3 linked regions of the Homo sapiens genome follow. Each later gene encodes a partner of the first gene's protein in a complex. Each region holds a gene or a part of one and is shown in the gene's direction. Other genes may lie near its edges.

The links.
Region 2: the proteins of SUMO1 (region 1) and SENP2 are in contact, whole or in part, in a crystal structure (PDB 1TGZ), measured with the Homo sapiens proteins. Residues at the interface, in NP_001005781.1 of Homo sapiens: Asn60, Arg63, Leu65, Glu67, Gly68, Gln69, Arg70, Ala72, His75, Glu89, Tyr91, Gln92, Glu93, Gln94, Thr95, Gly96, Gly97; in NP_067640.2 of Homo sapiens: Asp386 (codon at 332), Lys394 (codon at 356), Leu395 (codon at 359), Arg396 (codon at 362), Trp410 (codon at 404), Leu411 (codon at 407), Asn412 (codon at 410), Asp413 (codon at 413), Glu414 (codon at 416), Thr440 (codon at 2,181), Phe441 (codon at 2,184), Pro444 (codon at 2,193), Lys445 (codon at 2,196), Arg456 (codon at 2,229), Trp457 (codon at 2,232), His474 (codon at 2,283), Val477 (codon at 2,292), His478 (codon at 2,295), Trp479 (codon at 2,298), Met497, Gln542, Gly545, Ser546, Asp547, Cys548, Gly549.
Region 3: the proteins of SUMO1 (region 1) and UBE2I are in contact, whole or in part, in a cryo-EM structure (PDB 9B62), measured with the Homo sapiens proteins. Residues at the interface, in NP_001005781.1 of Homo sapiens: Gln29, Asp30, Ser31, Gln55, Gly56, Val57, Arg63, Tyr91, Gln92, Glu93, Thr95, Gly96, Gly97; in NP_003336.1 of Homo sapiens: Asp19, Lys48, Asn85, Cys93, Leu94, Ser95, Arg104, Lys110, Gln111, Leu114, Gly115, Glu118, Leu119, Glu122, Asn124, Asp127, Pro128, Ala129.

Annotation. Positions count from the first base shown.
Region 1 is NC_000002.12:202,231,920-202,235,664, reverse strand, and holds part of SUMO1 (small ubiquitin-related modifier 1 isoform a precursor), read left to right. Parts: intron 1-3,620; exon of another isoform or gene 3,621-3,745. UniProt on the Homo sapiens protein: Ubiquitin-like protein that can be covalently attached to proteins as a monomer or a lysine-linked polymer.
Region 2 is NC_000003.12:185,617,194-185,620,938, forward strand, and holds part of SENP2 (sentrin-specific protease 2), read left to right. Parts: intron 1-286; coding exon 287-418; intron 419-2,105; coding exon 2,106-2,309; intron 2,310-3,745. UniProt on the Homo sapiens protein: Protease that catalyzes two essential functions in the SUMO pathway.
Region 3 is NC_000016.10:1,307,570-1,311,314, forward strand, and holds the start of UBE2I (SUMO-conjugating enzyme UBC9), read left to right. Parts: upstream 1-2,066; 5' UTR 2,067-2,204; intron 2,205-3,745. UniProt on the Homo sapiens protein: Accepts the ubiquitin-like proteins SUMO1, SUMO2, SUMO3, SUMO4 and SUMO1P1/SUMO5 from the UBLE1A-UBLE1B E1 complex and catalyzes their covalent attachment to other proteins with the help of an E3 ligase such as RANBP2, CBX4 and ZNF451.

The DNA of each region.
Region 1 (3,745 bases):
GCATGATGGCCTGTACCTGTAGTCCCAGCTACTCAGGAGGTTGATATGGGAGGATCACCTGAGCCTGCGAGGTCGAGGTTGCAGCAAGCCAAGATCATGCCACTGTACTTCAGCCTGGGCGATAGAGACCCTGACTCAAAACAAAGAAGACCCAGTACAAGTTCAGTGTTGAGTGCTAAAGACTTAAAAGAGTTATAAAGCTGAACCCTTAATCTTAAGAGGTTTATAAGTGAGAACAAGAATCTCCAAATCCTGTACTGTTTAATATCAGCATGAGACTAAACCACTGTCCTAAGAAGACAACCTTAATTTGAATCAAGTTATTTTAGAGTGATGTGTTTTCTGAGGCAGCTCTCAGAAGGTTATTGTCTGGTGTTAAAATAGTGAAATTGAGTAATAACAAGGTTAAAATCGGTGGACATTAAATACACACAAGACTTCAATTGCTGGGTCCTCCATTGATTAATGAAAAAATGATTGTTTTTGGAATTTGAGTGAAACACTTCTTAATGGCTGAGTAGGGTGGCTTACGCCTGTAATCCCACCACTTTGGGATCACTTGAGGCCAGGACTTTGAGACCAGCTTGGCCAACATGAGGAAAGCACGTCTTTACTAAAAATACAAAAATTAGCTGGGCCTGGTGGCTCATGCCTGTAATCCCAGCTACTTGGGAGTCTGAGGCGAGAGGATCGCTTGAGCTTGGGAGGTGGAGGTTGCAGTGAGCGGAGATCATGCCACTGCATTCCAGCCTGGGCGACAGAGCAAGACTCTGTCCCAAAAAAAAAAAAAAAAAAAAAAGAAAAGGAAAAAAAACAAAAAACTTTTTTTTTTTTTTTTTTTTGAGACGGAGTCACAAAAAATTAGCCACCATGCCCAGCTAATTTTTTTGTATTTTTGGTAGAGACAGGGTTTCACCATATTGGCCAGGCTGTCTCGAACTCCTGACCTTGTGATCCGCCCGCCTCGGCCTCCCAAAGTGCTGGGATTACAGGCGTGAGGTGCCGTGCCTGGCAAAAAAAAAAAAAACACAAAAAAACCCACTTCTTTATAATTTTAACAATTCCAACATCATCTAGTAGATTTGTGTACCATTATTAAATAATCCTTTAAAATAAGTTCTAAACCTAAGGCCCATAGACCATAAAGACTGAAAGTTCGCTTACATTGTATGGAGTGTTTTGTGAGTATTTGTGCATACGTATTTTTTTTTTTTTAAGATAGAGCATTGCTCAATTGCCCAGGCTGGAGTACAGTGTGGTGTGATCTCGGTTACTGCAACCTCTGCCTCCTGGGTTCAAGTGATTCTCCTGCCTCAGCCTCCCTAGTAGCTGGGATTATAGACACATGACACCATACCTGGCTAATTTTTGTATTTTTTGTAGAGATGGGGTTTCATCAGGCTGGTCTCGAACTCCTGACCTCAGGTGATCTGCCCGTCTTGGCCTCCCAAAGTGCTGGGTTTACAGACGTGAGCCCAGCCATATATATATATTTTTTTTAAATAGGAGAAAGGACCCATAGTCTCATCAGGGGTACGTGATTCCTCAAAATGGTTAAGGACCATCCTTTAACCAGTAACAGAAATCTGATTGGGTGCTTTCCTTTAGCCCAGTCTCACCTTGTAGCAAAACAAAGTGCTCGTACAGAACCCGAAGCTTAATATCAAAAGGATAAGGGTAATTTGTACAAATATTTTCCCCTTCCTCCTTTCTGATATTTGAGTTTATAGTGTTTCTTTTTTATACCAAAATCATTAAAGGTAGCTTGGTCAGCTCTTCAATTCAAGTCTGTTAATTGTAGCAATTGGATGACTGTTCCACTCTAACTGAATCTGTATTAACACCCCCAAAGAGAGATTGAATGATTTCCTTTTATCTTTAGTCAAGGATTTGGAAGCATTGTGTAATTCTGATTATCTGATACATTACCTCAAAATTTTGTGACTTAAAACAACAGCCATTTATTTTGTTTATAAATCTGCAATTTGGACAGGGCTCTGTGGATTAGACTCACCTCTGCTTCTTGGTGTGTGGGGCCTCAGCTGAGATGACTCAAGTGGCTGGGGGCTGGAACAGCTAGTTGTCAGGTGAGATGAGACTGGATGGGGCAAGTGTCTCCATATAGTCTCAGAGCCTTTCTTAGTGGTTTCATCATGTGATGTCAGCATGGAGACCCCAGGGTATTCAGACTTACGGCTCAGGGATCACAGAGAGAATAGGTGTTCCAAGAGAACCTGGGTGGAAATAGCAAGTCTCCTACAACCTAGCCTTGGAAGTCACGTCTGTAATTCTGTTGCCCACTCAAATCACTAAGGTCAGCCAGATTCAAGGGAAAGGCATTTATTTAGACACTGTTTCTCAATGGGAGAGTAACAAAGAATTTGCAGTTATCTTTAATCTACATTAATTGTATTTTTGCTGCCATGATAGTATTATTCCCTGCAGTGTTCTATATAGCTCCCTGCTATTGATTTTTACTGATTTTAGAAATTCTTTGCTTGAGATAGCAGGAGAATATGATGAACTGGTTGTGTATTAAAATTCATAATTGTGTGTACTACTATTTATATCATAGAATAGATATGTTAAACTGTAGTTATTACTTGAGTATGTAGTTAAGCATTTCATGCCCTAGGAGAAGAAGAATACTGTGTCCGCTCTGATAGACATGAGGTCCTGCTAGTGGATGTTACAAATGTATAGATTGTAGCATTATCTAAACAAACTTTACTAGTAGTTTAAAAATTGAATATGAATGTTATGATTACTCATTAAGATTTAGTAGTTCAGATTTAAAAACTATTAAGTAGTTGTCAACTCATGACATCCTTTAGTCCCGAAGGCAGTTAGGGTATCTCTTTCATAATTTTTACATGTAATGTTACAGTTATTTACGTTCCTTTTTTTTTTTTTTTTTTGAGATGGAGTCTTGCTCTGTGGCCCAGGCTGGAGTGCAGTGGCATGATCTCGGCTCACTGCAACCTCTGCCTCCTGGTTCAAGTGATTCTCCTGCCTCAGCGCCTCGAGTAGCTGGGATTACAGATGTGTGTCACCACGCCTGGCTAGTTTTTATATTTTTAGTAGTGATGGGCTTTCCCCATGTTGGCCAGGTTGGTCTTGAACTCCTGACTTCAAGTCATCCACCTGCCTCGGCCTCCCAGAGTGCTGGGATTACAGGTGTGAGCCACCGCGTTGCCAGTTATTTACATTCTAAGTGTCTTTTCTCCATTACATCAGGCTTTATTTATCCTCTTTTTCCTGTAATGCTTAGCACATTGAGTGGATAATTAGTAAAAAATTTTTTAAAGGAGAGTGGCCAGATTCATTCAACAAATGTTTATTAAATGTCACAATGTTCACAGCATGATTCTAGGCCCTAGAATTGGAAGGTCGCCTCAAAAACATGAAACAGCAGGTACCTTCCTCCTCCTCTTTCAGTCCTCTTGATGTTGTTTTGTTATTGAGGCAGGGCTGGTTGCCATGGAATAGTTTTTCTCTTATGATATTTTTGCATACCTTCTTCATCTTTACTTCTGTTAGCAATAGACCTGGTAACTATATCCAAAGTTGAATCATTTACTTCTTCCAGGACACTGGGATTGTTAAGGATGATTTTTTTTTTAAAAAATGAAAGGTCTCACATATTTATTACTGAACCTAGCCAACCAACACGTTCATAACAGATTCAGAGAAAAAAATATATTCCCAATAAAACATGTCCAACTCTCTAGATAGTGGTGACATT
Region 2 (3,745 bases), on another chromosome or scaffold:
GCAGTGGCTCATGCCTATAATCTCAGCACTTTGGGAGGCCAAGGCAGGTATTGCTTGAGCCCAGGAGTTTGCAACCAACTTGGGCAATATAATGAGGCCCCATCTCTATCACTAAAAATAAGAAAAAAATGTTTTCCTACTGTAGTTTAGTAGGTCTTTGATAGTATATTTTTCTCAAGAGTCAGGTGTTGCCGAGATGAAAAACTTTTTTCAGTCTCGGAGTTTTCAATAACTGATAATGAATGGTTCTATATTAAAATAGCAACTTCTGAACTTTCTAATTCAGGACATGGAAAAGGAAATCAGTAATGCCCTAGGCCATGGCCCACAGGATGAAATCCTAAGTAGTGCTTTCAAATTGCGAATTACTCGAGGAGATATTCAGACATTAAAGAACTATCACTGGCTCAATGATGAAGTAAGTTGTATTCCCTCCCCCTTTTGGCTATCATTAAGTTTATTTATTTATTATCTATAATCAAAGTGACTCCTACCCAGTTATAATGGGTTGGTAATGCAACTCTTAGTTATAATTAAAACAAAAACATTTTAAATCTTAAAAAGATGGTTAGTTCTGATTTTCTGCCTTTGATTAGCGATGTTTCCCTTTTCTGCGTCTGTATTTTATTGCATCCACCACTTCATTTACTGGTCTTCAATAAACCCTGGGTACAGCTGATAAACGGGAGGAAGCAGCAAGTGATACTGTATTTTAGGTGAATTCTTATAGTAGCTATTTTTTTGTTTTTGTTTTTTGGTTTTGTTTTTGAGACAGAGTTTTGCTCTTGTTGTCCAGGCTGGAGTGCAATGGCGCAATCTTGGCTCAGCGCAACCTCCACCTCCTGGGTTCAAGCAATTCTCCTACCTCAGCCTCCCAAGTAGCTGGGATTACAGGCATGCGCCACCATGCCCGGCTAATTTTGTATTTTTAGTAGAGACAGGGTTTCTCCATGTTGGTCAGGTTGGTCTCAAACTCTGGACCTCAGGTGATCCGCCCGCCTTGGCCTCCCAAAGTGCTGGGATTACAGGCGTGAGCCACCGTGCCTGGCCTGTTTTATTTTTTGAGTAATAAAGGGATATATTGATCACTATATACTATGTGTATTTTTCTTTGAGTGATAGCTGAAAAATTTTGCCTAACTTGTCATCTTGTATCCTTAATACATTTAGCAAAAGCTAACTCTTAAGTTCTTTGACAATTTTCTGGTGGGTTCTTCCCCGAACTGCTTAGCCCCTGCATGTTCTCTCTTTGAGGGAAGTCCCCTATGACTAGTTACTTATAAACACATTCTTTGAAAACAGGAATGTTTTGTTTTACATTATAAATGTAATTTGTTTATCGTAGAATATTTGGAAAATACAGGAAAAGTAAAAAATATTACTGTTCAAAAGTACCACCACTCGGCCGGGCGCGGTGGCTCACGCCTGTAATCCCAGCACTTTGGAAGGCTGAGGCGGGCGGATCACGAGGTCAGGAGACCGAGACCACCCTGACTAACACGGTGAAACCCCGTCTCTACTAAAAATACAAAAAAATTAGCCAGGCATGGTGGCGGGTACCTGTAGTCCCAGCTACTCGGGAGGCTGAGGCAGGAGAATGGTGTGAACCCGGGAGGCAGAGCTTGCAGTGAGCCGAGATCACGCCAGTGGACTCCAGCCTGGGCGACAGGGCAAGACTCCGTCTCAAAAAAAAAGTATCACCACTCAGAGATAAATAAAATATTATTTTGGTGTATGTCCTTCAAGTTAATATTTTAAAATTGAAGTCTAATTTATATGTAGTAAAATTCACTTACTGTTAATATTTCTGCGTATTTTTGGTGTGATACAGTTATGTAGATCTTTCCATTATTGCACAGACTTTCTTCCTGGATTCCTTCTTCTGGCTGTTAAGTGTTACTCACATGCCTTAAAAGTACAGTTTCATTTCATTTTCATGTGTCCCATTTTGCACTGATCACTTTTTTCCCTGTCTTCTACTATAGACAGTCTTTTTATCCTCTTCTTTAGTACCTTACCTTCGAATTCATCCTTATTCAGGTAGAAATTTAGTTTTGATAATATGTTTGCCATGTTCCAGCTTTTGCTCCCTTGGTATTTTGTAGGTCATTAATTTTTACATGAATCTTCTGGTGGAAAGAAATAAAAAGCAAGGCTATCCAGCACTTCATGTATTCAGTACTTTCTTCTATCCTAAATTAAAGTCTGGGGGTTACCAAGCAGTGAAACGATGGACCAAAGGGGTAAATCTCTTTGAACAAGAAATTATTCTGGTGCCTATTCATCGGAAGGTACATTGGAGCCTGGTGGTGAGTAGAGAGGGTTAATGGTTAATTGTTGGACTTGGATAAAGGCCATTTTTTAAAAATAATGCTGCCTTTTTCTGCCCTGTGTATAGAGGCCAATAGTATATATTATAAGCATACTCTGCAGAGTCTCTTTTTAGTTTTTTTTTTAATGTCCCATCCTTCACCCAACCCTTTTAGTTCTTTTTATTTATTTATTCTTTAAAAAATTTTATGTTTATTTTATTTTACTATTTTTTAAAATTACAGACCAGGTCTCGCTCTGTTGCCCAGGCTGGAGTGAACTGGTGTGATCATAGCTCATTGCAGCCTGGAAGTCCTGGACTCAGGTGATCCTCCTGCCTCAGCCTCCTGAGTGACTAGGACTACAGGCATGGTCCACCATGCTTGCCTAATTTTATTTATTTATATATTTGGAAAGATGGAGTCTTGCTATGTTGCCCTGGTTGGTATCCAACGCCTGGCCTCAAGTGGTTCTCCTGCCTCAGTTTTTCAAAGTGTTGGTATTACAGGTGTGAGCCACCATGCCTGGCCTTTTTTTCTTTTTCTTTTTCTTTTTTTTTTTTAAATTTTTATTTTTAGAGACAGGGTCTCATTCTGCCACCCAAGCTGGCATGCAGTGGCACAACCATAGCTCACTGTAACCTCCACCTCCTGGGCACAAGTGATCCTTTCACTTTAGCCTCCCAGGTAGCTGGGACTACAGACATGCACCACTATGCCTGGCTAATTTTTTTTAATTTATTTTAATTTTTTTGTAGAGACAAGAGTCTTGTTTTTTTGCCCAAGCTAGTCTTGAGCTCCTGGCTTTAAGCAGTCCTCCCACCTCAGCCTCTCAGAATGATGGGTGAGATGCCGCACCTGGCCTCCTTTTTAGTTCTTGAGTTGAACAACTTTTAGAAGGCTACAGGACGAAGTCCTTGTACTTGAGGAGCTTTTTTTTGTTTGTTTGTATGTTTTTGAGATGGAGTCTTGCTCTGTTTCCCAGGCTGGAGTGCAATGGCACGATCTCGGCTCACTGCAGCCTCCGCCTCCTGGGTTCAAGCAATTCTCCTGCATCAGCCTCCTGAGTAGCTGGGATTACAGGCACGTGCCACCACCATACCTGGCTAATTTTTGTATTTTCAGTAGAAATGGGGTTTTACCATGTTGGTCAGGCTCGTCTTGAACTCCTGACCTCGTGATCCGCCACCTCAGCCTCCCAAAGTGCTGGGATTATAGGCGGGAGCCACCGCACCTGGCCGAGGAGCTTTCATTTTTAACAGGAAAGAGTCTTAGTATGCATAAGGGTTATTTATATTTATTTAGTTTTGTTTACAAGATAGTACAGGTTTATTGCAGAAAAATGCATTTATAAGGCCAGGTGTGGTGGCTCATGCCTATAATCCCAGACTTTGGGAGGCTGAGGCAGGAGGGGTTGCTTGAGCCCAAGAGTTTGA
Region 3 (3,745 bases), on another chromosome or scaffold:
ATGAGGGAGGAAGGGAATGAGTGAGGGAGGGAATGAATGAGTGAGGGAGGGAATGAGTGAGGGAGGGAATGAATGAGGGAGGGAATGAATGAATGAGGGAGAGAGGGAGGGAATGAGGGAGGGAGGCAATGAGTGAGGGATGGAATAAATGAGTAAGGGAGGGAATGAGTGAGGGAGGGAGGGAATGAATGAATGAGGGAGGGAGTGAATGAATGAGTGAGGGAGGAAGTGAATGAGGGAGGAAGGGAATGAGTGAGGGATGGAATGAATAAGGGAGAGAATCAGTGAGGGAGGGAGGGAATGAATGAGTGAGGGAGGGAATGAGTGAGGGAGGCAGGGAATGAATGAGGGAGGGTGGGAATGAATGAGGGAGGGAATGAATGAATGAGGGAGGGAATGAATGAATGAGGGAGGGAGGGAATGAGGGAGGGAGGGAATGAATGAATGAGGGAGGGAATGAACGAATGAGGGAGGGAATGAATGAGGGAGGAATGAGTAAGTGAGGGAGGGAATGAGTTTGTGAGAGTGGGAATGAGTGAGGGAGGGAGGGAATGAATGAATGAGAGAGGAAATGAGTGAGGGAGGGAATGAGTGAGGGAAGGAATGAATGAGTGATGGAGGGAATGAATGAATCAGTGAGGGAGGGAATCAGTGAGGGAGGGAATGAGTGAGTGAGGGAGGGAGGGAATGAATGAGAGAGGGAATGAGTGAGGGAGGGAAGGAATGAATGAGGGTGGGAATGAATGAATGAGGGCGGGAATGAATGAATGAGGGCGGGAATGAGTGAGAGTGAGAATGAGTGAGTGAGGGAGGGAATGAATGAGTGAGGGAGGGAATGAGTGAGGGAGGGAATGAGTGAGTGAGGGAGGGAATGAGTGAGGGAGGGAATGAGTGAGTGAGGGAGGGAATGAGTGAGTGGGAATGAATGAGTAAGTGAGGGAGGGAATGAGTGAGTGAGGGTGGCAATGAATGAGTAAGTGAGGGAGGGAATGCGTGAGAGAGGGAAGGAATGATTGAGTGATGGAGGGATCGAATGAATGAGGGAGGGAGGGAATTAGTGAGGGAGGGAGGGAATTAGTGAGTGAGGGAGGGAATGACGGAGTAGGGGAGGGAATGAATGAATGAGTGAGGGAGGGAATGAATGAATGTGGTCACTCCCCGCGGTCCCCAAGCACCCGGACACCGTGACCTTGGCTGCGGCCCCGCCGTCGGCGAAATGCGGGCGGGGGGGCCGGGAGAGCCCGGGGGCCAGCACGGTCGCGCGTTGGCGAACGGACTGTCCCGCGCGCTCGCGGGTCTGGGGGCCTCCCGACCCGGTCCTGCTTGTTGCGTGGGCGGGAGGGGGGACCGGAAGCGCCCCTCCCCCACGGGCTCGCCCCGCCCCCGCCGCTCGCGGTCCCCCACGTCCCGCCCGCGCCCCGGCCCAGGGCCAGCCCCCGGTTTAGGGAGCATCCACACTTCTCCTCCCGTCGGTCATGCTCGCATTCGGCCTTTTGTACGGGGTCAGCTCATTGGGCGGATGAGAAGGTGTCCCCGCCTACCGCCCCGAACTGGCCAATTGCAAGGGGTTTCACAGGGCGCTGAACTCGCGGGAGCGTCACCGTCCTGCGACGCTTCAGAGGATCCTTAGGCCTCAGTGGTCTTTGACCCCCGGCCCCAGGACCTGACCCCAAGGAAACCTCCGGGACCTGTGGCTGGAGAGGTGACCGCCAGGCATCCGGGGAGCCTTTGGAGATCTCGGCTTCCTTTTTCCCCCGCTGCTTGCCGGCGTGTCCTCGGGTGGACGCGGGCAGCCCGAAGGGGAGTTTACAGACGCTCCCTCACATCGGGGACGCGGCTCCTTTAAGGGCGTAGGTGTCCAGGGCGCCGCCTGACTGGAAAGTCGCCCCCCGGCCGGGCTCCTGGGGCGGACCCGGGGCGCGGGCGCGCGGCGGCGGGGCGCGGGCAACGGGGAGCGCTCGGCGGCGCGGGAGGCGCTCGGGGCCGGGCGGCAGGAGCGGCGCGCGAGGCAGGCGTGCAGAGGGCAGCCCCGCGTTAGGCCCCGCCCCGCGCGCCCCGCCCGCGCCAGGGTCCTCGGAGCTGCTCTGGCTGCGCGCGGAGCGGGCTCCGGAGGGAAGTCCCGAGACAAAGGGAAGCGCCGCCGCCGCCGCCCCGCTCGGTCCTCCACCTGTCCGCTACGCTCGCCGGGGCTGCGGCCGCCCGAGGTGAGCGCGTGCGGGGGCCGGGCCGGGGCCGCGGGGCGGGGGTCGGGCCGAGGCCTCTACTCCTGTTGGGCCCGGGCCCCCGACTGCCCCGCGCCCCGCCCCGCCGAGCCGGGCCCCGCGCCGCGGCCGAGCTTTCCGGGGAGCCCGAGAGGCCCCGCGCTCGGCGCCGGCTCGGTCCGCGCTGCTGGCGCCGCTGGGCTGCGGCCCGAGCGGCCGGGCCGCCGCAGGCCTTCGGGGCCGGGGCTCCCCCACTTCGCCCCCGAGGTGCGCCTGGCGCGGGGCCGGGGCAGCCACCTGCAGCCGGGGCCCCGCGAGGCCGCGCCTTCCTCCTGCGCGGGGAGCGGCTTCCGGGGTCACGGTCGCCCCGCGGACGGATAGGATGGGCCGCGGGGGGAGAGTCTTGGATTGCAACATCGCTGGCTCGCGGGGGTGGGGGCCGGCGAGCGGGCTTGTTTTCGGTGCCTTAAAACCAAAACAAGTGTAAGTTTTCTTGTGCCTCTGAAGATGCTCCGCTGGCGCTTGCTGGGGCCCTGAACGTGAGCGCCTCGCTGGAGGGGGAGTTTTATTCTGTTTTGGACATCTCTTTTTATCGGTTGAATAGTAGTTGGTTCTGGTAGTTAACGTGCGTAGGAGGAATGTAAGGGAATGATTAGTTGGGCTTGTGATCGTGGCCTGTAGTCACGCTTGAATCGCAGAATGAAGTGGTTTTGTTTGTATAATTGGAAGTTACGCTTAGTTTCTCTGTTTGCAAAGTGCCTGTCTTTGGGGAGTTCGGTTTGTTTCCTTTTACAGGACCTACCCCAAGTGTTTCTTGCTCTTCAAGAAACGTTGCCTTTGGGTAGAGAACCTATGCAACGGAAGACGGGACGGATCCTCAGTTTGCCCTGATTGCTCATTCAGAGAGGTCCGTTCCCTAGGCCACTGGGTGATTGCTGGTGTGCGCTTGTATGGTGTCTCAGGGTTTGGGATCTTGCTTCAGAAACATTCTCGGGGCCTGGGGCAGATCAGGTGCGGCCAGGTAAGCGTCTCCCGACTGCAGGTGCTTGGGTCTTGCAGAAGGGAATACCTCCCCAAGCCTGGGAGAGTTTGCATTTGGGTGCAGGAGGGCCTTTAAAGGCTTCTTGTGCCAGCCTGTCGTGGCGACCACCCGTTGTGGAGATCAGTGCGGTGGAGTTGTGGGAGGTGAGTGCTTTGCTCACCCTCAGCCAGGAAGTTGCTCTGAAGTCGGTGCTGTCAACCAGCAGAGCAAGGCGGTGATCCGAGAAGCTAAAGCTCAGCCGGTTGCGGGCGCCCAGCAGGAGGACAGAAGGCAGACTTTCGGGCCGCTCCTGGAGTGCCCGGCCCTGTCCCCGTTTCTGCAGTGTCTGGGCCTTGCCTGGCTCTAATAGATGAGGGTTGTTTTTGTCTTTGCATCATAAAAGTTTCTTGCTCTGAAGCGTTTAGTAACTACTAGCCGTTCACTAAGTGCCTATCTGTGAATTTGGAAGGGCAAATTCGATTTTCAGCGGAATTTTGAACGCTTGATCTGTGTTGTGATTACA